Regions from separate parts of the Homo sapiens genome. Here regions 1, 2, 4 and 5 are each reported to be linked to region 3. Evidence: microRNA targets listed by miRTarBase, many of them from high-throughput screens and not tested one by one. Region 3 holds a microRNA gene; each other region holds the end of a gene's coding sequence.

Region 1 (4,149 bases), not on the chromosome of region 3:
ATGGGGGAGCGGCAGAGGGCTAGGGAGATGACAGAGGTGCTGCCCAGCCAGCGCTACAATGCCCACATGGTGCCTGAAGATGGGATTCTCACCTGCCTCCAGGCCGGCAGCTGTAAGAGTTGGCAGGGATGGCTCTACCTGGAGCTGGGGGCTAGGGGGAGGGTGCTACAATGTGCATCCAGGTCCTACCAGGTGAGGGCCCTTGGTTCTGGTGGGCACAGTGTGAGGCTGGCTCTGGGCTCTCAATTGTGGCAATGGTTCCCTGGTCTGGGTACCCACGCAGAGATTTACCACCATGGAAGTCAGAGTCCCAGGTGGGGCATCTTGTCTGAATGTCTGTCCCTCACTGCAGATGTCCTGAGGTTTTACAACACCTACAGCCTGGTTCATTCTAAACGCATCAGCTACACCGTGGAGGTACTGCTCCCAGACCAAACCTTCATGGAGAAGATGGAGAAATTCTAGGTGAACCTCATGGTCCCCACACCCTCCTCTTTGATCTCTGAATCCACAATGAGTTCACAGCCTTCCCTGGCCAGACCCTGTTCAACCTCTCAGGAACAGGGATTCTACAACAGCAGGTCACAGCCTATGCATCACAGCTGGCCCACTCCTCAGGAACGGCTGGGACAGTGTCCTAGTGGTGGCCCGATGGTCACAGCAAAGCAACACAGACACTCCATCCCCACTATGACCTGCTGTGACCTCAAGCTCAGCAAAAACCCCAGGCTTTTTTCTATCAACCAATACCAAGAAATAAGTTACTCTTCTAAAATATAGTATTAGGCCAGGCATGGTGGCTCATACCTGTAATCCCAGCACTTTGGGAAGCCAAGGCGGGCAGATCATTTGAGGTCAGGAGTTCGAGACCAGCCTGGCCAACATGGTGAAACCCTCATCTCAACTAAAAATACAAAAATTAGCCAGGTGTGATGGTGCCTGCTTGTAATTCCAGCTACTTGGGAGGCTGAGGCAGGAGAGTCGCCTGAACTTGGTAGGCAGAGGTTGCAGTGAGCCGAAATCATGCCACTGCACTCCAGTCTGGGTGACAGAGTGAGACTCTGTCTCAAAAAAATAAAATAAAATAGTATTAATAGGAAATTTGAAATATAGTATAGCTGACAGATCAGGAAATAATTACCATTGAAAAGATAGTTTATTACTCACAGTTCCCAAGAGGAGGGGCCGCTGTGCCATAGGGGGAAGAGGAGGGGTCCCCAGGGAGGCATCAGGGCCGAACATGACGCACATGAGACAGAAAAACTCTGGACAAAGCAACTTTACTTTTATGATGGTTTCTGCAGGAAGGAACTGGTGAGGCAGGGTAAGCAGGCTTGAGATTTGCTAGTTTGAATAATTTCAGCAGGCTCCGTGGAATAAGGGCTGTCACTAGCTGTCTGGTATCTTGCCCTGGGGTGATTACAGCAGGTGGATAGTGGCCTGGAGTGTGAGAATCTGATAAAGGAGGTAGTTGGAATATGGTTTATATCAGTTGGTTTGCATTCGAAAAGTGCATTTGTGGGCAAGTTGCTGTATCTCTAGGAGAGGCAGGCCCTCCAGGATTAGCAAAACCTCAGATGTTAAAGCATGCAGAAAATAAAAGACATGGTTCAAATAGTTCCCTAACAAGCAGTTGTGCAATGCTGCTCTGAATGGAAATCCAACCTCACAGTTTCCCATCTAGAAAGAATTTTAAACTCTCTATTCTGTCTTCCACATACACGTTCCCTCCCACTGTTATAGCATCTGAGAATCTGCTTGAGCTCTGGATCTTCATCCAATCTCCTGATTAAGATTTCAAACTGGCCAGGTGCAGTGGCTCACACCTGTAATCCCAGCACTTTGGGAGGCTGAGGCATGTGGATTGCTCGAGGCCAGGAGTTTGAGACCAGCCTGGACAACATGGCGAAACCCCGTCTCTACGAAACATACACAAATTAGTTGGGTGTGGTGGCGGCGAGTGCCTGCAGTCCCAGCTACTTGGGAGGCTGAGGTGGGAGAATCTGTGGAACCCAGGAGGCGGAGGTTGCAGTGAGTTGAGATTGCACCACTGCACTCCAGCCTGGGAAACAGAGCAAGACCCTGTCTTAAAAAAAAAAAATTCAGACTGAGCCTCACAGTGGGACACTAGGTCGGTGTCAGCCCACAGTCCTACTAGAGTGCTGTCCTGCGATCAGGCCTCTTTGGGTCTGGCTATGCTGTCAGCTGAGATTCTGCCCAGGATCCTGTCACTCACATGTTGTCCCAGCTTGTTCTCAATGTGGCAGCCCCAAATGACAGCCAAAGTTCTTCCCTAATTGCCTACTTTACAGGAATCCTGTCCAAAAATGGAAACACGGGCATTCAGCAGCCCTTGCTCTCCCTCAGCCCCTCCCCTGACAGCCACTGATCTGTTCTTCATCCCTACACTTTTGATTTTTTCCAGAGTGTCATATAAATGGAATCGTGCAATATTTAGCCTTTTGATTCTGGCTTTCTTTAGTCAGCATAATGCCTCTGAGATTCATTCACTTTGTTGCATGTGTTAATATTTAGTTGCTTTTCGTTGCTGAGTAATATACCACTGTATGGATGGACCACACTGTGTTTATCCCTTCCCCTGTTAAAGGCTGGTTGAGTCGCTTCCAGTTTGGGGGCGATTATGAATAAAGCTGTTGTAAGCATTCGTGTACAGGTTTTTTGTGATCCTAAATTTTCACTTCTCCAGGGTATCAATACCCAGGAGGAGAATTCCTGCTGGGACCTATGGGAAGGGTACATTTAATGTCACGGGAAACGGACAACGTGTTTTGCACAGAAGTTGCACCATTTTCCCAAAAGCAGCATGTAAGCATCCCAGTTGCTTCCCATCCTTGCCTGGTGCTGTTAGTTATCCTGATATTAACTATTCGAATAGGCCTGTGGTTAATGTGGTTTTTATTTATTTATTTATTTATTTTATTTTATTTTTTTGAGATGGAGTTTCACTCTTGTTGCCCAGGCTAGAGTGCAATGGCATGATCTTGGCTCACTGTAACCTCCACCTCCCGGGTTCAAACAATTCTCCTGCCTCAGCCTCCCAAGTAGCTGGGATTACAGGTGCACACCACCACACCGGCTAATTTTTGTATTTTTAATAGAGACAGGGTTTCACCATGTTGGCCAGGCTGAGCTTGAACTCCTGACCTCAGGGGATCCACCCACCTCAGCCTCCCAAAGTGCTGGGATTACAGGCATGAGCCACCATGCCCGGCCAATGTGGTTTTAATTTACATTGCTTCAATGACTAGTAGTGCTGAGCATCTTTTCATGAACATGAAAAAGGCATGGTCGGCTGGGCATAGTGGCTCACACCTGTAATTTCAGCTCTCTGGGAGGTTGAGGTGGGAGGATCACTTGAGCCCAGGAGTTCTCTGTCTCTGTAAAAAGAAAGAAAAAGGAAAGGAAAGGGGAAGGGGAAGAAGGGGAGAAAGGAAGAAGGAAGGAAAGGAAAGAAGGAAGGGAAAGAAAAGGAAGAAGAAGGAGGAGGAGGAGAAGAGGAAGAAAAAGAAGGAGGAGGAGGAGAGGGAGGGAGAGAGAGAGAGAAAGAAAGAGAGAAAGAAAGGAAAAGAAAAAGAAGGAAGGAAAGAAAGAAAAAGGAAAGAAAAGAGAAAGAAGGAAAGAAAGAAGGAAGGGAGGAAAGGAAGAAAGAAAGAAAAGAAAGAAAAAGAAAGAGAAAGAAAAAGAAAAGGCAGGCATGGTGTGTGAGATGAGACAGGCTCGAGTTCAAGTGCTGTTTCTAGCACTCACTGCCTGGCTTTGGCCAGTGATCAGACCTCTCTGAGCCTCCATCTCCTCATTGGCAAATGGGTGAGATAGCGTCTGCCTCATAGAGTGGTTGCTATAGGATAAAGGAGATTCCGCAGGCACCAGCAAGCCTCCAGGGGAAGGCAGCTGCTATTGGGAGCTGATAACTAGTGTTGGAGCCCACCAGGGAGCCACGCTGCACTGTCCCACAAGCTTTCTCCATGCATCTTGGTCCCATCTTCCTGTGCTTGTCCTGGCTGCCCTACAGGCCCCTGTTAGGTGCCCCCAGTTCTGATCTCCAGGTGCACTCTGGGCCTAATGCCCTCCCTGCATCTCCTCCCATCTGGCTGCCAGCTCCACCTGCAGTGTGGGCCAGCCCTGCCC
Region 2 (4,149 bases), not on the chromosome of region 3:
ATTCGTTGATGATATTATGGAGTATCTCTGAGAAAATGGGGCCTCCTCAGCCAGATGCTGCAAGAGGAGGTGAGGGGCAGTGGGCAGCCAAGGGGATGCAGCCTGCAGAAGGCGTTCCCAAAGGACTCTGCCACTGCCTGCCCATGCAGTGTGGCTGCGGCTGCTTTTACCCATTGGCTTCTGCTTTGTGCCCCAGATCACAGGCTGTATCGAGATGGAACTCTCAAGCTCCTGGGTCGTCTCTCCCTTCTCTCTGAAGAGATACTCTGGGCTGCCAATGGCTTACCCAACCCCTTCTGCTCTTCAGACCACCTCTGCCTGCTAGCCAGCTTCGGGATGGAAGTCACCGCCCCATGACAGGGCTCCCAGGGGAAGAGAGCTTCTCTTCCAGAAGAGCTCACTGGATCAGAGACTGTGGAAAAATCCCATGCATCTAGAAACTTAGATCCAAGAAACTTACATCCCCTCCCTTCCCCCTCCTCGTTCCCTTTTTCCCACGGTTAGACTTTCTCCAGGCCTGGCTGCGTTCTCTGCCTGTGGTCCTTGCCCCACCCCAGCCTCTTCCTAATCCTGTGCCACACACTCAGTGGCCCTGGGAGAGGCAGAAGGGGGGCTCCCCCTTCCTTCCATGTATCCAGCGCTCCCCCTTGATTTTTAATTACCAGGGTTATGGGAGTTCTTGATTTCATTGGTTATTTGCTTTCAGGCCGTTTCTTGATGTACCTTCTGACCTGACCTTTTCCCTGCCTTCAGGACTTCTGGGCCCAGCCCTCTTGCCAGGCATGCATATGTGAGATATGCATATCATGTATGTGTCCTCTTGGGGTGAGACTTCTGCACAGCCATGCCTGCCTCTGACCAGTCCACTTTTCATGTTGGGGCTGTAGGCCTGGGGCAGGTTCAGAGTCTACCCAAGTACCTATGTATGAGCAGGCAGCAGCAGGGCATGGCCCCATCTCTCCTTTTAGCCTCTGTGTTTCATTAGGCATTCATCCTGCCAACCAGGGCAGGCCCGGCGTCTGGGCTCTGGGAACAAATGGGGCCCACATCCTGGAGTGGCAAATTTTGGGGGATGCGCTACCTGTCCCAGCTGGCCCTGTGCCTCCAACCCAGAGCTCCCCACAGACCTGGTGTAATTTCACAAGGGCCATCCCTTTCCCCAGGCTTCCCTGAGGGAGGCGGAAGTTTGAACCCTTATGTGGGGTTCATTGGGCTAGGGTAGTGGTATGAGGTTTAAAACTATTTAAGGATTAGGAGGAGAAAGAGTCTTCAGGAAACTCTTGTTTCACTGGACTCTGCAGCCTGCAGAACTGGGGCAAGGGTAGGAGTTCCAGTAGGGGAAGGAGCAGGTAGACTCTTCAGCTGCCTCAGCTGGGACTGAAGACCTAAGCTGATTCTCTTTCCTCTCCACTCCTAAGAAGCAATTTTCTGTTCCTCTCCTTCCACCACTTTTTACTTTCTGCTATCTCCCATCTCCCGCTTCCCTTCCATTTCCTTTCTAGAAAACCCTGGTATTTAGCTCAGGCCAAACTGCCTCAGCAGAAAGGTGGCCTTGGACAAAACTGGTCCAAGAATTTGAAGTGGCAGTACTTGCGGATTGGCTCTGTCCAGCAAGGCCTCAGCTGCTTGTTGCGTCTGCTTTCCCTCCCCTAACAGAAGGGTACCCTGGCTTATTCAGGGGACTCCTTAGTCCACACTGTGTCACCTGCATGCCTTAATCTTTCATTGCTGGGGTGTGGCCTTGGGAGATCCTGGGCCAGCCCCTCCACACATCTCCCTAAGTCAGAGTGGCTGCTGGCCCTGGTAGATTTGACTTGCTCTTGCCTCACTCGACCTCCAAAGTGGGACTGAAGACAGTGGTCAAGAGACTTGAGTTCGGGACAGTAAGCCAGGGGTTAAGGTTCTTTCCTTTTTTTGAAAGCCAAAGACCCAGTTTGCATTGTGCTGCTGCATTCATGGTTAGAAGCTTTCCATGCCTAGGTTCTAGGGAATTTATTTTTCTATGTGTATATATTTTCAAACTTTGTTTCCTGGGTACTGGGCATGTGCCTGTCTGAGCCCCAGGTCTGTCTACACCCCACCATTCATTCTGTCTGTCTGTTCCCTGGACACTGCCTAAAAGGGTCTCAAGACAGTGCCCTGTGGGTTCCTAGGACTAGGGCCCATCACTGTTCTCTTCTGCTGGGAAATGCAGCTTTAAAATGGCTAACCACAGCAGAGGGCAGATGCTTGATAGATTATCTTTTCCTTGCTTTCTTGTTTCTGTTTTGAAAGTGAAATGGGGTTTTAAATTGTTATTTAAACTCTTTTTCCAAATAAAGGTTTACCTTTTTTCCCCCCAATGTTGTTCATTTTATTAGGATCCTGAAGGGATTAGGTCCTTGAGAGAGGGCCTGAAGAATGAGGTGGGCAGAGGAAGAGACTAAGGAGCTTTTGATCTTGGGGTGGGGTCTCAAGACATGAATCTAGATTGAGAAATGTGTTGTAAGATCTCCCTCTATTAGCTGAGGTAAATTCCCACTGCTGTGAGGCCTGGGAGGAACAGGGCTTGAGTGAAGCCTCCTGCCTTGACACTGCTGGGGTACAGCTTTCTTCTGTCCTTCCCAAGTGAGAGAATGATTCTTTGGACTGCTTTTCATTCTTCCTCCATCTGCTCCCCCCATGCCTCCTCCTAGTATCTTCTGCACTTCAGGAGGGTCTGTGCAAAGTGGGATAAGATGTGTGTTTTCCTGATTAAAGCTATGGCAGCTGCATGAGACATGATGCGGGTGGCACATGCCTCTTGCTGAGCATCTATTTCTGATCTCTTTTGCATTCTGGAGCCAGGGCTGAGCAGTGGGCCATCTGTCGCTGGAAAAATGTCTCTTCCTTCCTAGGCCTACCTCTGTTGGTGCTTTTGTCTTCCAACCTCCCTATGTAGTAAGACCAGCCAAGCCCACATGCCCACTGGGAGCCCTGAAACCAGATCTGGTTTTCTGTCTTACCTGAACAGGTTCCCAGAACCCACACCAGGCCTCTGAATCAGTCTCTGAGAATCTGATTGATTTAAAGCCACTTGGTTGCTTCCATTGCACTACCTGGGTTGCGATCCCCTCAATTGATTTAGTAAAAAGAAAACTTAGCGGCCGGGTGCGGTGGCTCACACCTGTAATCCCAGCACTTTGGGAGGCTGAGGCGGGTGGATCACCTGAGGTCGAGAGTTCCAGACCAGCCTGACCAACATGAAGAAATCCCGTCTCTACTAAAAATACAAAATTAGCCGGGCGTGATGGCGCATGCCTGTAATCCCAGCTACTTGGAGGCTGAGGCAGGAGAATTGCTTGAACCTGGGAAGCGGAGGTTGTGGTGAGCCGAGATCATGCCATTGCACTCCAGCCTGGACAACAAGAGTGAAACTCCATCTCAAAAAAAAAAAAAGAAAAGAAAAGAAAAGAAAGAAAACTCAGCTAGGAATTAGAAACATCATTTGTCCTCTTGGCCTGTTCAGCTGGTGACTGTAGGTAAGTTACTTAACCTCTCTGTATTTCAGTTCACATTCCTTGGTGAAATAGAAATTAAAGTTAATAATCACTTCTACTTGTGAAGAATTTTCAGATCTGAAATTGCTTTGTTTGGGCTTTGGCAAGAAAAAGGTGCTAAGAATTCCAGAGAATTATTGGTAGGAGTTGGGAGTAGATCGTTACCCCAGCCAGGCTGGACAGTTGGGCCCATTGGCTAGGAAGTATTTGAAAGCCCTAAGCTTTGAGGTATATCCCCAAGAACCTCTTCCTGGCAGGGAGGGTTCCTCCTAGTTGCCTCAGTCAGTTAGCATCTCCACAGCACTTCTGTTAAGTTTGCACAGTACTTCCACGTCAGCTAGCAAAGACAGTGGCACTGTGTGGTGGCAGTTTAGGTGGTGTTCAGATTCTACCTTTACACCTGAGGAAACAGAAATCCCAGAGATAGAATTTGAGAATCTCCTTTGGTTTATTTCTTACCACCCCAAGTTTCTCACAAGCCTTTCCAGGATCAGGCAAGACAGGTTATCTTGGAAGGCAGAGGCTGGTGGTGGGGGCCTGGGGCTGGGGGAGCTCAGAGGCAGCTTTTAACTGGAGACCAAGAAGGGAAATGGCCAGTCAGGAGGCTGCTGCTTTTTTTGTTTTGTTTTTC
Region 3 (4,149 bases):
CATTTGACAAAATCCAACACTCTTCCATGAGAAAACCACTCAATAAATCAGGACTAGAAGGAAAAGCTTTCAGCTGATAGAGAGCATCTACAAAACCCCCAAAGCTTACATTACAATTAATATTGAAAGACTGGGCTGAGTGCTTAGCTCATATCTGTAATCCCAGCACTTTGGGAGGCCGGGGCGGGCAGATCACTTGAGCCTAAGAGTTCAAGAGCAGCCCGGGCAACACAGCAAAACCCTATCTCCACAAAAAATACAAAAATTAGCTGGGTTTGGTGGCACGCCCTGTTGTCCCAGCTACGTAAGAGGCTGAGCTGGGAGGATCACTTGAGCCTGGAATTGTGAGTTGTGACTGTACCACTGCACTCCAGCCTGGCAACAGAGCAAGACGCTGTCTCAAAACAAAAAAACAAAAAAAAAACTGAATGACTGAATGCTTTCCTTCCTCAAGATCAGGACAAGAGAGGCACACTTCCATTAATTCTATTCAACACTGTACAGAAGGTCCTAGCTTGAGTAACTGGATAACAAAAGGAAATAAAAGGCATCTAAATTAGAAAGGAAGAGGTAAAACTTCCCTATTTGCAGATGACATGAACTTCTAAATACAGGAAATTCCATGGTATCCACGAAAAACAGAGCTAACAATTTTTTTTTTTTTTTTTTTTTTTTGAGGTGGAGTCTCACTCTGTTACCCTGGCTGGAGTGCAGTGGCGTGATCTCTGCTCACTGCTGCCTCCACCTCCCAGGTTCAAGCGATTCTCCTGCCTCAGCCTCCTGAGTAGCTGGGATTACAGGCACCTGCCACCAAGCCTGGCTAATTTTTGTATTTTTAATAGAGACGGGGTTTCACTATGTTACCCAGGCTGGTCTCAAACTCCTGATCTCAAGTGATCCACCAGCCTTGGCCTCCCAAAGTGCTGAGATTACAGGCATGAGCCACCATGCCCGGCCAACAAATGATTTTTGTAAGGTTGCAGGATACCAGATATATATATAAATATAAAATGTATTTCTAAACATTAGCAATAAATAATTTGGAAATGAAATTAAGAAAACAATTTCATTTACAACAGCATCAAAAAGAATAAATATGTAGGATTAAATTTAACAAAGAAGCCTTGTATACTGAAAACTACAAAACATCATTGAAAGAAATTAAAGACCTAATTAATGGACAGACATCCCATGTTCATAGGTTGGAAGACTTAACAGTGTTAAGATGGAAATGCTCCCCAAACTGATCTACAGACTCAGAGCAATTCTTATGAAAATCCTGAGTGCCTCCTGAAATTGACAAGCTGATCCTAAAATATATATGGCAATGCAAAGAACCCAGAATAGTAGAAAAATCTGAAAGAAAAAAAAGCAAAGTTGGAAGAATCACACTTCTCAATTTCAAAACTTACTACAAAGTTACAATAATTTAGACAGTGTGGTACTGGCATAAAGACAAATATACAGATCAATGGAACAGAATTGAGAGTCCAGAAATAAACCAATACATTTATGGTCAAATAATTTTTGACAAGAAATGCCAAGACAATTTCATGAAGAAAGAATCATCTTGTCAACAAGTTTTTCTTATGGTGCTGAAACAACTGGTTATCCACAAGCAAAAAAATGAAGTTTGACCCATACCTCACACCATTTACAAAGATTAACTAAAAATGGATCATAAATATAACAACTAACAGTATAAAGTTCATAGAAGAAAACTTATGTTGGCCAGGCACGGTGGCTCATGCCTATGATCCCAGCACTTTGGGAGGCTGAGGCTGGTGGATCACTTGAGGTCAGGAGTTGGAGACCAGCCTGCCCAGCATAGCAAAACCCCATCTCTATAAAAACACAAAAAAATTGGCAGGGTGTGGTGATGGGTGCCTGCACTCCCAGCTACTTGGGAGGCTGAGGCAGGAGAATCGCTTGAACCAGGGAGGCAGAGGTTGCAGCTGAGCTCGCACTACTGCACTCCAGCCTGGATAACAGAGACGCCATCTCAAAACAAACAAACAAAAAGAAAACATATGTCTAACTCTTTGTGATCTTCGCCAATGGTTTTTATAGATATGACACCAAAAACACAAGCAACCAAAGAAAAAACAGACTAAACGGGTCTTCATCAAATTTTGAAACTTTGTGCTTCTAAGAACACCATCAAGAAAGTGCAAGATAGCCAGCCCACAAGTAGGAGAAAATATCTGCAAATCATATATCTGATAAATGACCAGTGTTTGGAATACAGAAACTACACTTATAGCTCAACAATAGAAAGGCAATCCATTTTAAAAATGGCAAAGGATCTGAATAGATACTATCTGAGTAGATTTTTCTTCAAAGAAAATATACAAATGACCAATAAGCACATCAAAATACATTCAGTCTCATTAGTCATGACAGAAATGCAAATCAAAACCACAATGAGATACTACCCCACACCTACAATGATGGCTATAATCACAAATACAGATAACAAGTGTTAGGATATGGAGCAACTGAGACCCTCATACATTGCCACAGGGAGTGCAAATGGTACAGCTACTTTGAAAAACAGTTTCACAATTACTCTAAAAGTAGACTGACCATATGACCTAGCAATTTCACTCCTAGGTGTATACCCAAAATAACTGAATGTCCACACCAAAACCTGTACACAAATATTCATAGCAGCATTATTCATAATAGTCAAGCTGGGGAATCAACCCAAATGTCCATCAACTAATGAATAAACAAAATGTGAAATATCCATACAACAGAATATTATTCAGCTATAAAATGGAATTACGTTCTGATATATTTAACAACATGGATGAACCTTGAAAACATTATGTCAAGTAAACCACGTCAGCTACCAAAGGCAACTTGCTGTATGACTCCATTTATATGAAATGTTCAGAACAGGGAAATCCACAGAGACTGAAAACTGATGAGTAGTTGTGAGAAGCTGGGGGGAGAGGGAATGAGGAGTGACTGCTAATGGAATTGATTTTTGGGGTGACAAAAATGTTCTGGAATTAGATAGTGGTGATGGTTCAACAAATCTACCAATATACGAGAAACCACTGAATTTAAAATGATTAATTTTGTGGTATTTGAATATCTCAATATAAAAAACAGACTTTGCCACCCTGACATTTAGTTATCTCTATACTCCAGTTTATTCCAAATCTTAGACCATCTATACCACAAAATGAAATTTTTAAATATCATTATAGTATAATTTCCAAACAGATTTTATTTAGAAGATGTAGAAATTATCTTTCCCATGCACTCATATTTCTACAGTGCTATAAAAATATTTCTAGGGAATAAATTCAAATATTGTCTTTTGCCAGTAGGCATTTTTCCTCCTGGTTCAGACAAAAATCTATTGATCTTTGAGTATTTGTCTTTTCTGAGAGTGGTGCTATTTATCAACATGAATTTTATGGGCTGATGAAGTACTAAATACTTACAATTAAGAAGGTCCAGTTGTGTATCTACTTTAGGGCCCATTCATCCTGGTTACTATCTATGCATTTCTTGTAATTTCACAGTGAGTTGGGATTTACATGAAAGGAATACTACTGCCAGGAGTTTCAAATGACAATGACAGCTTCCCCATTTGATGCCAAACAATTTAATCTTGCTTCCCTCCAGCTAAGGGAAGAAGGGGTTCCCTTGGCCATCGAAGAACTGAGATTTAAAGCACAACCCTTGAATTTCCTGCGTAATTATCTTTCCTGGGTGGTCCATGGTGGGGCACAGTTGATAGTTATTTGTCAGATAAATGCGGCAGACAATCACTGATGGGATACCATTTTCTTTCAAATCCAAGAATGAGACAGCTCTAAATAACTCAGAAAAGACATTTCAAATACAGAGTCATGCTCTGTTAGAGCTAGAGGGGTTTGAAATACCTAGTTCAGAAAGTTGCAAAATGTATTCTAAGGAATACTAGTTCCACAAGATAATCCATGAGAAGAAACTCTAAGAAATCTATTAACACACTGTTTTCCAAAAATACTTGCCCACAGATCCTTTTTCTGCATGACACCTATTCATGACCTAGTAACATGTTTTGAAAAATCCTAATCTGGTCAAAAATCCATTTCACAAAAGATAAAATTGCTCACGGCTCTCCACTTCCCCAGATTTAACTGGTTT
Region 4 (4,149 bases), not on the chromosome of region 3:
CCTTCTCTAACTGTTCTAGCCTGTCTCCACTGGGCTAGTTCAAGGGAAGAGACCATGTGCCAGATAGATACCAGGGCAACAGCACCTCCCTATGGCTTCGTGGCAGGATAGCAAGAAATATTAGCACCTGGATCTACCTAAGAAAAACGTCAACCACGAAGGGGATTTGTAGGAGGTGTAAGCTTTAGATTTTTATTATCATTAAGGAAAGTGGCATTTTCCTTAGGCTGTCATCTGTTGAATGCCACATGGTTACAGATCATGAGTGGAAGTGCAGAGAAAATACAGACTCAAGATACCCACTAAAGTTTTTTTCTTTTTTATTGTAAATTGACTATTTATAATTGTATAGATTTATGGGTTCTGTAAAGAGAGAGTTGTGTGGGGAAAAAATTTATGGGGTACAAAATGATGTTATGATTTGTGAACGCCATATGAAATAATTCAGTCAAGCTAGTTAACATACCCATCACCTCAAATACTTAACTTTCTTTGAGGTAAGAACATTTGAAGTTTACTTAGCAATTTGAAATGTACAGCACTCTACTATTAACTATATTCACCATGCTGTGCAATAGAATGCACAAAAAGAGAAAACATATTCTCCCTGTTTGAAATTGTATACCCTTTGCTCATCACCTCCCCATCTCCCCCTCCTCCAGCTTCTGTCACCACAATTCTACTCTCCACTTCTATAAGTTCATTGTTTTAACTCCACATATAAATGAGAACATGTGGTATTTGTCTTTCTAGCCCTGACTTATTTCACTTAGCATAATGTTCTCCAATTTCATCAATGTTGTCACAAATTTCAGGATTTCCTTCCTTTTTTTTTTTGAGATGGAGTCTCACTCTGTCGCCCAGGCTGGAGTGCAGTAGTGCCATCTCAGCTCACTGAAACCTCTGCCTCCAAGGTTCAAGCCATTCTCCTGCCTCAGCCTCCCAAGTAGCTGAGATTACAGGCATGCATCATCACACCCAGCTAATTGTTGTATTTTTAGTAGAGATGGGGTTTCACCATGTTGGCCAGGCTGGTTTCAAACTCCTGACTTCAAGTGATCTGCCTGCCTTGATCTCCTAAAGTGTTGGAATTACAGGTGTGAGCCATTGCACCTGGCCAGAATGTCCTTCTTTTTAAAGGCTGAATAGTATTCCATCATGTATATGCAATACATTTTTTTAATCCATTCATCTGTTGATAGACAGAGATTGATTCCCTAACTTGGCTATTGTGCGTAGTGTTGCAATGAACATAGGAATGCAGATATCCCTTCCACAAACTGATTTCGAGTCTTTTGCATTAATACACTGAAGTGGGATTTCTAGATCATATAATTCTATTTTTAGTTTTTTTTCGGGGGGGGGTGGAATTTCCATACCATTTTCCATAATGGCTACACCAATTTACATTTCCACCAACAGTGTACAAGTGTTTCCTTTGCTCTACATCCTTACCAACACTTATCTTTTGTGTCTTCATTTGAAAACATTGTTTTGAAATAAAGTACAGGATGATTAAAAACATAATAATAAACATTTTAAGACGTTGTGACAGGTGAGAGATTATATCTTATTGTGGTTTTAATTTGCATTTCTCTAATGATTACAAGAAGAAAGAAAGAAAGAGAGAGAGAGAAAGAAAGAAAAGAAAGAAAGAAAACATAGGGGAAACATATAAGACATTGGTGTGGGTAGTGATATTTTGGATTTGATCCCGAAAGCATGGACAACAAAATTAAATATAGACAAATGGTATCACATCAAACTAAAAAGCTTCTTAGTTCATGACGTGTAGCTAAAACAAACAAACTAAAAAGCTTCTGCACAGCAAAGGAAATAATCACCAGAGTAAAGAGACAGCCTATGGAATGGGAGAAAACATTTGCAAGCCAGACATCTGACAAGGGTTTAATATCCAATACATATAAGGAACTCAAACAACTCAATAGCAACAAAACAAACAAACAAAAAAGCAATTAAGACCTGCTTTCTGCTGACAAAGTCTTCTTCCTTACCCCTCCCTAATAAGAAGGAAGAAAAAAGGCAATTAAAAAAATGGGTAACTCCTCCTTAGTACAGTGGTAAAACTTAAACATTAAAAAAGTTTTGGGGCCAGCTCGGTGGCTCACACCTGTAATCCTAGCACTTCTGAAGGCCAAGGTGGGCAGATCACCTGAGCCCAGGAGTTAGAGACCAGCCTGGGCAACATGGCAAAACAGTCTCTACAAAAAAAAAAAAAAAAAATTAGCTGGGCTTCATCCATGTTTGTGTCACTGCACCTGAGCATAGGTGACAGAGTGAGACCCTGTCTCAAAAAAAAAAAAAAAAAAAAAGCTTTAAGTTGTAAAAATGGGTAAGATCAAAAGAGAAGGAAATAAAAAAATGTGTAAGGAAGCTGAACAGACATTTCTAGTGATGTTTTTAAAGCTATGAACCCATTTTGGCACAAAGGCTTTATCATATGCAGTCATTTACAAAATTTTTTTGTAAAGCCATCATATAAAAGTGTGAATTTTCTCACCTGAGTACATGACAAGAAAATGCTGAAATCAATATATAAATCAAATCATCTGTACTGGCACTGTTAATCTAGAAGAAGGTGGTTGCATAGAGAATAGCAAGAATTTAAACCAGCTTATTGAAGTGTGAAAAGAAAAAAAGAGAGAGCTTCAGAGGTAGGCTTTGCCTCTTAAAAAAATTAAAAATAGCCGGGCGCGGTGACTCACGCCTGTAATCCCAGCACTTTGGGAGGCCGAGGCGGGCGGATCATGAGGTCAGGAGATCGAGACCATCCTGGTTAACACAGTGAAACCCCGTCTCTACTAAAAATACAAAAAAATCAGCCGGGCGTGGTGGCGGGCACCTGTACTCCCAGCTACTCGGGAGGCTGAGGCAGGAGAATGGCATGAACCCAGGAGGCGGAGCTTGCACTGAGCCGAGATTGCGCCACAGCACTCCAGCCTGGGCGACAGAGCGAGACTCCGTCTCAAAAAAAAAAAAAAAAAAAAAAATTAAAAATATAAGTCACTGTCAGTGTTGTGCTTGGGAGTTAGCAGCCAAAAACAAACAAACAAACAAAAAAAGAAGTCATCGTCTGTGAAAAGAAAAGAAAAAAAGAAAAAAGAAAAAGACTTTGCATCCATTGAAGTATGCAGCAAAAGAAAACAATTTTTAAAATAAAATAAAATGGGTATAGTTGGGAGCTTAGCAATGGTCATACAGAATGGAGTAATGGACACTGGAGGCTCTGAAAGGTGGGAGGATGCCAGGGGGATGAGGGATGAAATCCTACCTATTGGGTACAGTGTTCACTATTCTGGTGATGAGGATGCATATTTCACCACTATGCAATATATCAAAGCAACAAAACTGCACTTGTACTCCTAAATCCATAAAAATAAAAAATTATCTTGGCTGAGACATCTTTAAAAAATAATAAAATAAAAAAATAAAAATTTTAATAGAGAGAGAACAGTAAGAGCAGAGCAAGGACCTTAGTCTATACTTTCAAATGGGCTTGATCATTTGAAACAATAAAGTTGTTCATTGAATCTTCACAAAGTATTATAAAAAAGTTGTTCATTGGCAGAATTTCCCAACAAGTTAGTATAGATTACATACTCTTTGATAAAAGCAACAATAAAGTTAATTTTTTTTCCTCTTTAGTATTTGCTTTAAGAGAAAAATCCTAAATTTCTTCAGAGGAGGAAAAAAAGAGAGGGAGGGAGAAATCATTAAAACTTGTAGAGATTTCCGATGCCAGTAAACCATGAAATATGAAAGTATATTTAGCAATCATGGTGATTTAGCTCATGGTAATTGGCATATGTATAATTATAATTTGCATTCCAGTTATTTAAACTGAGATATTCTTGATCAGGTTGAACACACTGTGAATAGAAGATCTCTTTCCCCAGGAAATAGGATGGAGAGAGTCTTTGGAGAATGGCCTCACTGAACTGGTAAGTCAGCTTCCTCCGGATTTTGGTAATTTCCCCACTTCTTCCGTAATTTCTGAGTGCCCTGGCCATTTTCTGGTAAGTCATGGTCTTCCTGTTGCCTTTTCTTTTCCCCCAAAGCTCGGCAAGTTTTTCTTTGTTTTTTGATACAAACTGAAAGATGCCTTTGGTTTTATCTACCCACTGAATA
Region 5 (4,000 bases), not on the chromosome of region 3:
GCTCCAGGATACATTAATACATCTAATAAAGGTATGTAGGATACCAATTTTATCTTTGATTTTTCATTATTTAATGAAAGAAATTTTATAAATTCCTCTTACAGAATCAGTTCATAAAGTAAATTCAAAAGACTAGCTGGAGGCCAGGCAAAGTGGCTCACACCTGTAATCCCAGCACTATGGGAGGCCAAGGCAGGCAAAAAAAAAACAAAAACAGACTAGCTGGGAGTACTGTTTCTCTTTTTTTAAGCATACAGTCCTGGTGGAGAAATATCTGCATGAACTCAAAATATTAATCATGATTGTCTCTGGGTGGTGGGATTATCAGTTATACAAATCATTTATACAATTTTTTTCCTAAGCTGTTACCAAGGAAGTAAAATCTGATGAGGTAAATGTGGCATTCGTATCCTTAACCTTTACCATCTCTTCTAGAATGATTCCAGCTTCCTCAGTACACTTCATGAAGTCTACTTGCAGGTTCTGACCAAGAACAAAGACAACCACAACCTATGACTGGAGCAGAATAAGTCTAAAGGCAGAGCCCCAGCCTCAGAGACAAATAGGCTTCATCATGGAAACTTCTGAGCAGAACATTGAGTTTGAGAATCCTGAAATTGAGCCTATGAGAAAGAGACTCATTTCTTAAGAATGTTTTCCAAGTGACATTCTCAGTGATAATGGAGGTTTCACTGTGAAGCATCACCAGCAGATCCTTGTTTTGACAAAAAAAAAAAAAAAAAAAAAAAAAAAGAGAGCGATCATTGTGTTAAGTTATGTGGGTGTTTTCATCAGCTAGGAGCAAGGCTGTGGAATAAGGAGTCAGATTCTCAGCTTGCTTTCACTTTCAAGGACTTACAGAGGAGTAGTCACCAGCCTCACAGCAGAAGTTCAGCCCGGCCCCCACCGCTTCCCCCAGCCTACCCCATAGAAACGGGCTTTGGGCTGACAAGTCAAGTTTTGAACAGAGTAGAAGGCAGCTCTGCAAAGTAGCTTCTAGTTTTTAGGACCAGAATTTAAGCCGGCAAATTAGGAATTATTTCCTCAAGTGAAGTATATTTTATATGAATGCCCCATTTGGGCCTTAAAAGTTGTGAAATTTCTTAATAGCATTTTGTTTTTAAGTGCCCCAGTCCTGCCCTGCAGCAGGCCCCCAGTGCAGCATTACCATTTGAATAGGGCACTGTCAGGCTCTGGTGGTGTGGACACAGGCATGTCATACCTTTGAAGGAAAGGCTGGGGCTGGGAATGCCCACATCCTATCAAATCTTCATTTTAGGTTAAACTCTCCATTGGTTCTGAAAATGCTAAGTTTGTGTGTGAAGCACAGCCTTATTTTCCTTTTCTGTCATTGTTGATTGTTTTCCTTAACACTTTGACAAAAGGACCAGTGGACCAATCTGACAAAGCCATTCTGGTTCCTTTCCTTGAGTGTACTGAGAATAGTTTTAAAGCTATGCAGAAAAGGGAGCTGTTATTCACACTGCCCTTATTTTGTTGTAGAATTATGGAGTTAAAAGAAAATGTGATTCCGAACTCTACCAATGTATTCCTAGGCTGTGAGTACTTTCCCGGCCCAAAGTGTGAAAATATGTAAAGAAGCTTTGTTATGCTGCTATTGATCTGCCATGATTTCTATTTATTCTTTTATGGCATGTAATGGTGTTTAGTAATATTTTAATGTAGATTTTGATTTATTTCAGCAATAGTAATTTTAAGATATTCTTTGAATGAAAGTGTCTTCGTTTCTATGATACAGGTCATTTTGTAGTATTTAACCAATTAAGATGCACTGCTTACTTTTCTGAGCACTATTTAATGATGGGGTAAAAACCCAATTGGCTCAACCAGCTAGCATAAGGATTAGCTGTGAATAATGCTGACAGATATGATGGTTCCTTAGGAACAATCATTTAAGCTTTAATGGTAACTCAATCATAAGTCCATAGATTATTTTTTTCTAGCTAAAATTTTAGAAAATTACTTGTGAATTACATACTTGTTTTAGTTTGGTCTTAGTTTTTAGCATAAAGAATGATTGGCTTTTGTTGATCTAAACATGCTTCCTGGACAGGGTTTCTGCTTCTCATTTTAGTGTCTTCTATTGCTGTCTACCTAATTATGTGTGAATTGTGCAGAATTCAGGGAAGCTTATAAGTTTTCATGCTCAATTGTGAATAGTTTGTTTTCACAGATAGTATGTAAATTAAGCAACCAAAAATGAATTCCTTATGCATCATCTGGGAACGAGAAAGCTATAGTGGGATACAGAGTGTTGCTGACACCGGGAGATGGTGTCCAGGGAGCCACGTGACTTCCATAAAGTGGACGCACCAGTAGGTGTGATTGCACCTCAAGTGTAGTCTCAGTGGGCTTCGGTGAACAGACGAATCAAGGGATTCTTGAATCGAAATTATGCTTTTGAGTATGTAATATTATGAGAGAGTTAAGAGAGAATATCCTAAAGAGAGTCTGTGATCATACTAATTTTCACCTTTAATGCTAGGAATGGATATGATAGACAGTAAAGAGCATCTATGATAAGGCTTCCTTAGTGTGAAAGTAAACTTAAGTGCCCAAGTCATGGAGACTTGAAAAGGGTAAACCTGTTTCACCTCCCAAATTTATATATTCAAAGTATTTACTTAAAATTCAGAAGCCAGAAGTTCATGTCATGATTACCAGGAAGTTCAGGCCAGAATGAATCCCTAGAGAAGCCAGGCCAAGCCTGGATAATTGCAGCTGGATGACCCTGGCCCGAAAGTCACAGTTCAGTTGCCTTATTCCTAGTTCAGGCTTACTATCTAGAACCTCATGCTAGCTTAGGTTGCATGTTTACATTGCTGCAGTGTCTTTACTGGAAGCTTAGTTGGATCGAAATGGACACCGAGATGGAGATGCTTCTGGCTAGATTTCGCAGAACCCCAGGAGACCTGCATTTAGACCACTCTGTCCATTTGTGTGCCCACCCCCACCCCCAGGGTCTAAGTGTAGACTCCAAGAGGAGCAGCCCAGAGCTTGGAGGAGAGGTGTGTCTGGGGCACCACTGGTGGGTGGTGCTGCTCTTCTTTTTGTTGTAGTTAATGCGGTGTCTTTTAATGGACTCTCAGGCCTCCCAGACAGCCTTGTTCCTTTAAGGCAGAAGCTCTTCTTCATTGTGTACCTCCTGGGATTCATGAGGTGTGAGATTTGGCCTGCTTGACTTTGAATTCAAGTTTTTCAAGTGACTCTCAGTGTCAGAAGAAGCATTTCATGCTGTCCACATGTGGTATGTCCACAGCTCACCTTCAAAGGCTTAGATGTAGCCATCACAGAGAGTGGTATTTTATTAAGAACCCAAGTCCCAGCCTGACCAACATGGTGAAACCCCATCTCTACTAAAAATACAAAAATTAGCCGGGCGTGGTGGCACGCGCCTATACTCCCAGCTACTTAGGAGGCTGAGGCAGGAGAATCACTTGAACCCGGGAGGCAGAGGTTGCAGTGAGCCAAGATCACACCACTGCACTCTAGCCTGGGCGACAGTGAGACTCCACCTCAAAAAAAAAAAAAAAAAAAAAAAAAAAAAAGTCACGCTGGGCCCCTCTCTACAGGGGGACACACAGGCTTAGTTTAGTATATGTCTAACCAGATTTTGCATGTCAAGCATTTGTCCTTTTCCTGGCTTATGTTTTCTTGTAGAAATTATATAAACCCTATCAAATCCACTACTAGGTAAATTTTTAAACCATGCAGCTTTATTACTCTCCTCCCCCAAAGAATGTAGTTTGAAATTTTCTCATTTCCATAGTAGAGGCCCTAACTGCCATTGTATTACTAATAATGCAACATGAAATTGAAGGTGCCTAACTGCTCAAAAAACAAAATCAGCCATCATACTGTAACTCTGAGAGGAATGAGAGGTGGCACAGGCACGAGTGGGCTCAGCCCGTGTGAGTGAGGAGAACTGAGGAATCCTAGGGTGCGCATCCTGCATCCTGGCTGCACGTTTGCTGCAGAG

What was found. The annotated mature microRNA hsa-miR-562 reads AAAGUAGCUGUACCAUUUGC and lies in region 3 at 2,529-2,548, opposite strand. An mRNA with a match to its seed (bases 2 to 7 or 8) in the 3' UTR can be bound and repressed. Matches are read on the target gene's strand: a 7mer-m8 pairs with bases 2 to 8, a 7mer-A1 pairs with bases 2 to 7 and ends in A, and an 8mer does both.
Region 1: the mRNA of SEC14L6 is a reported target of hsa-miR-562. Seed matches in the 3' UTR shown: 7mer-m8 at 955-961 and 7mer-m8 at 1,976-1,982.
Region 2: the mRNA of ANGEL1 is a reported target of hsa-miR-562. Seed matches in the 3' UTR shown: 7mer-m8 at 3,291-3,297.
Region 4: miRTarBase lists SPIC as a target of hsa-miR-562. The part of its 3' UTR that is shown has no 7-base or 8-base seed match.
Region 5: miRTarBase lists DCP1A as a target of hsa-miR-562. Seed matches in the 3' UTR shown: 8mer at 3,428-3,435.

Annotation. Positions count from the first base shown.
Region 1 is chr22:30,521,313-30,525,461 of GRCh38, reverse strand. It overlaps SEC14L6 (SEC14 like lipid binding 6), which reads left to right. Exons shown (of 12, transcript NM_001193336.4): 11 at 1-112; 12 at 353-2,663. The coding sequence ends at 465. Among named protein-coding and RNA genes, the nearest start is that of SEC14L4, 18 kb to the right of the region's middle.
Region 2 is chr14:76,785,436-76,789,584 of GRCh38, reverse strand. ANGEL1 (angel homolog 1) reads left to right here. Exons shown (of 10, transcript NM_015305.4): 10 at 197-3,576. The coding sequence ends at 357. It overlaps VASH1-AS1 (VASH1 antisense RNA 1), which reads left to right and starts at 2,861. Exons shown (of 2, transcript NR_104184.1): 1 at 2,861-3,500.
Region 3 is chr2:232,171,112-232,175,260 of GRCh38, reverse strand. It overlaps MIR562 (microRNA 562), which reads right to left and starts at 2,608; the gene lies at 2,514-2,608. The region is part of intron 9 of DIS3L2 (DIS3 like 3'-5' exoribonuclease 2); the gene reads right to left.
Region 4 is chr12:101,486,411-101,490,559 of GRCh38, reverse strand. It overlaps SPIC (Spi-C transcription factor), which reads right to left. Exons shown (of 6, transcript NM_152323.3): 6 at 3,563-4,149. The coding sequence ends at 3,789. Among named protein-coding and RNA genes, the nearest start is that of SPIC, 13 kb to the right of the region's middle.
Region 5 is chr3:53,284,096-53,288,095 of GRCh38, reverse strand. It overlaps DCP1A (decapping mRNA 1A), which reads left to right. Exons shown (of 10, transcript NM_018403.7): 9 at 1-31; 10 at 436-4,000. The coding sequence ends at 516. All of the region lies in intron 1 of LOC107986087 (a long non-coding RNA gene), which reads right to left. Among named protein-coding and RNA genes, the nearest start is that of TKT, 30 kb to the right of the region's middle.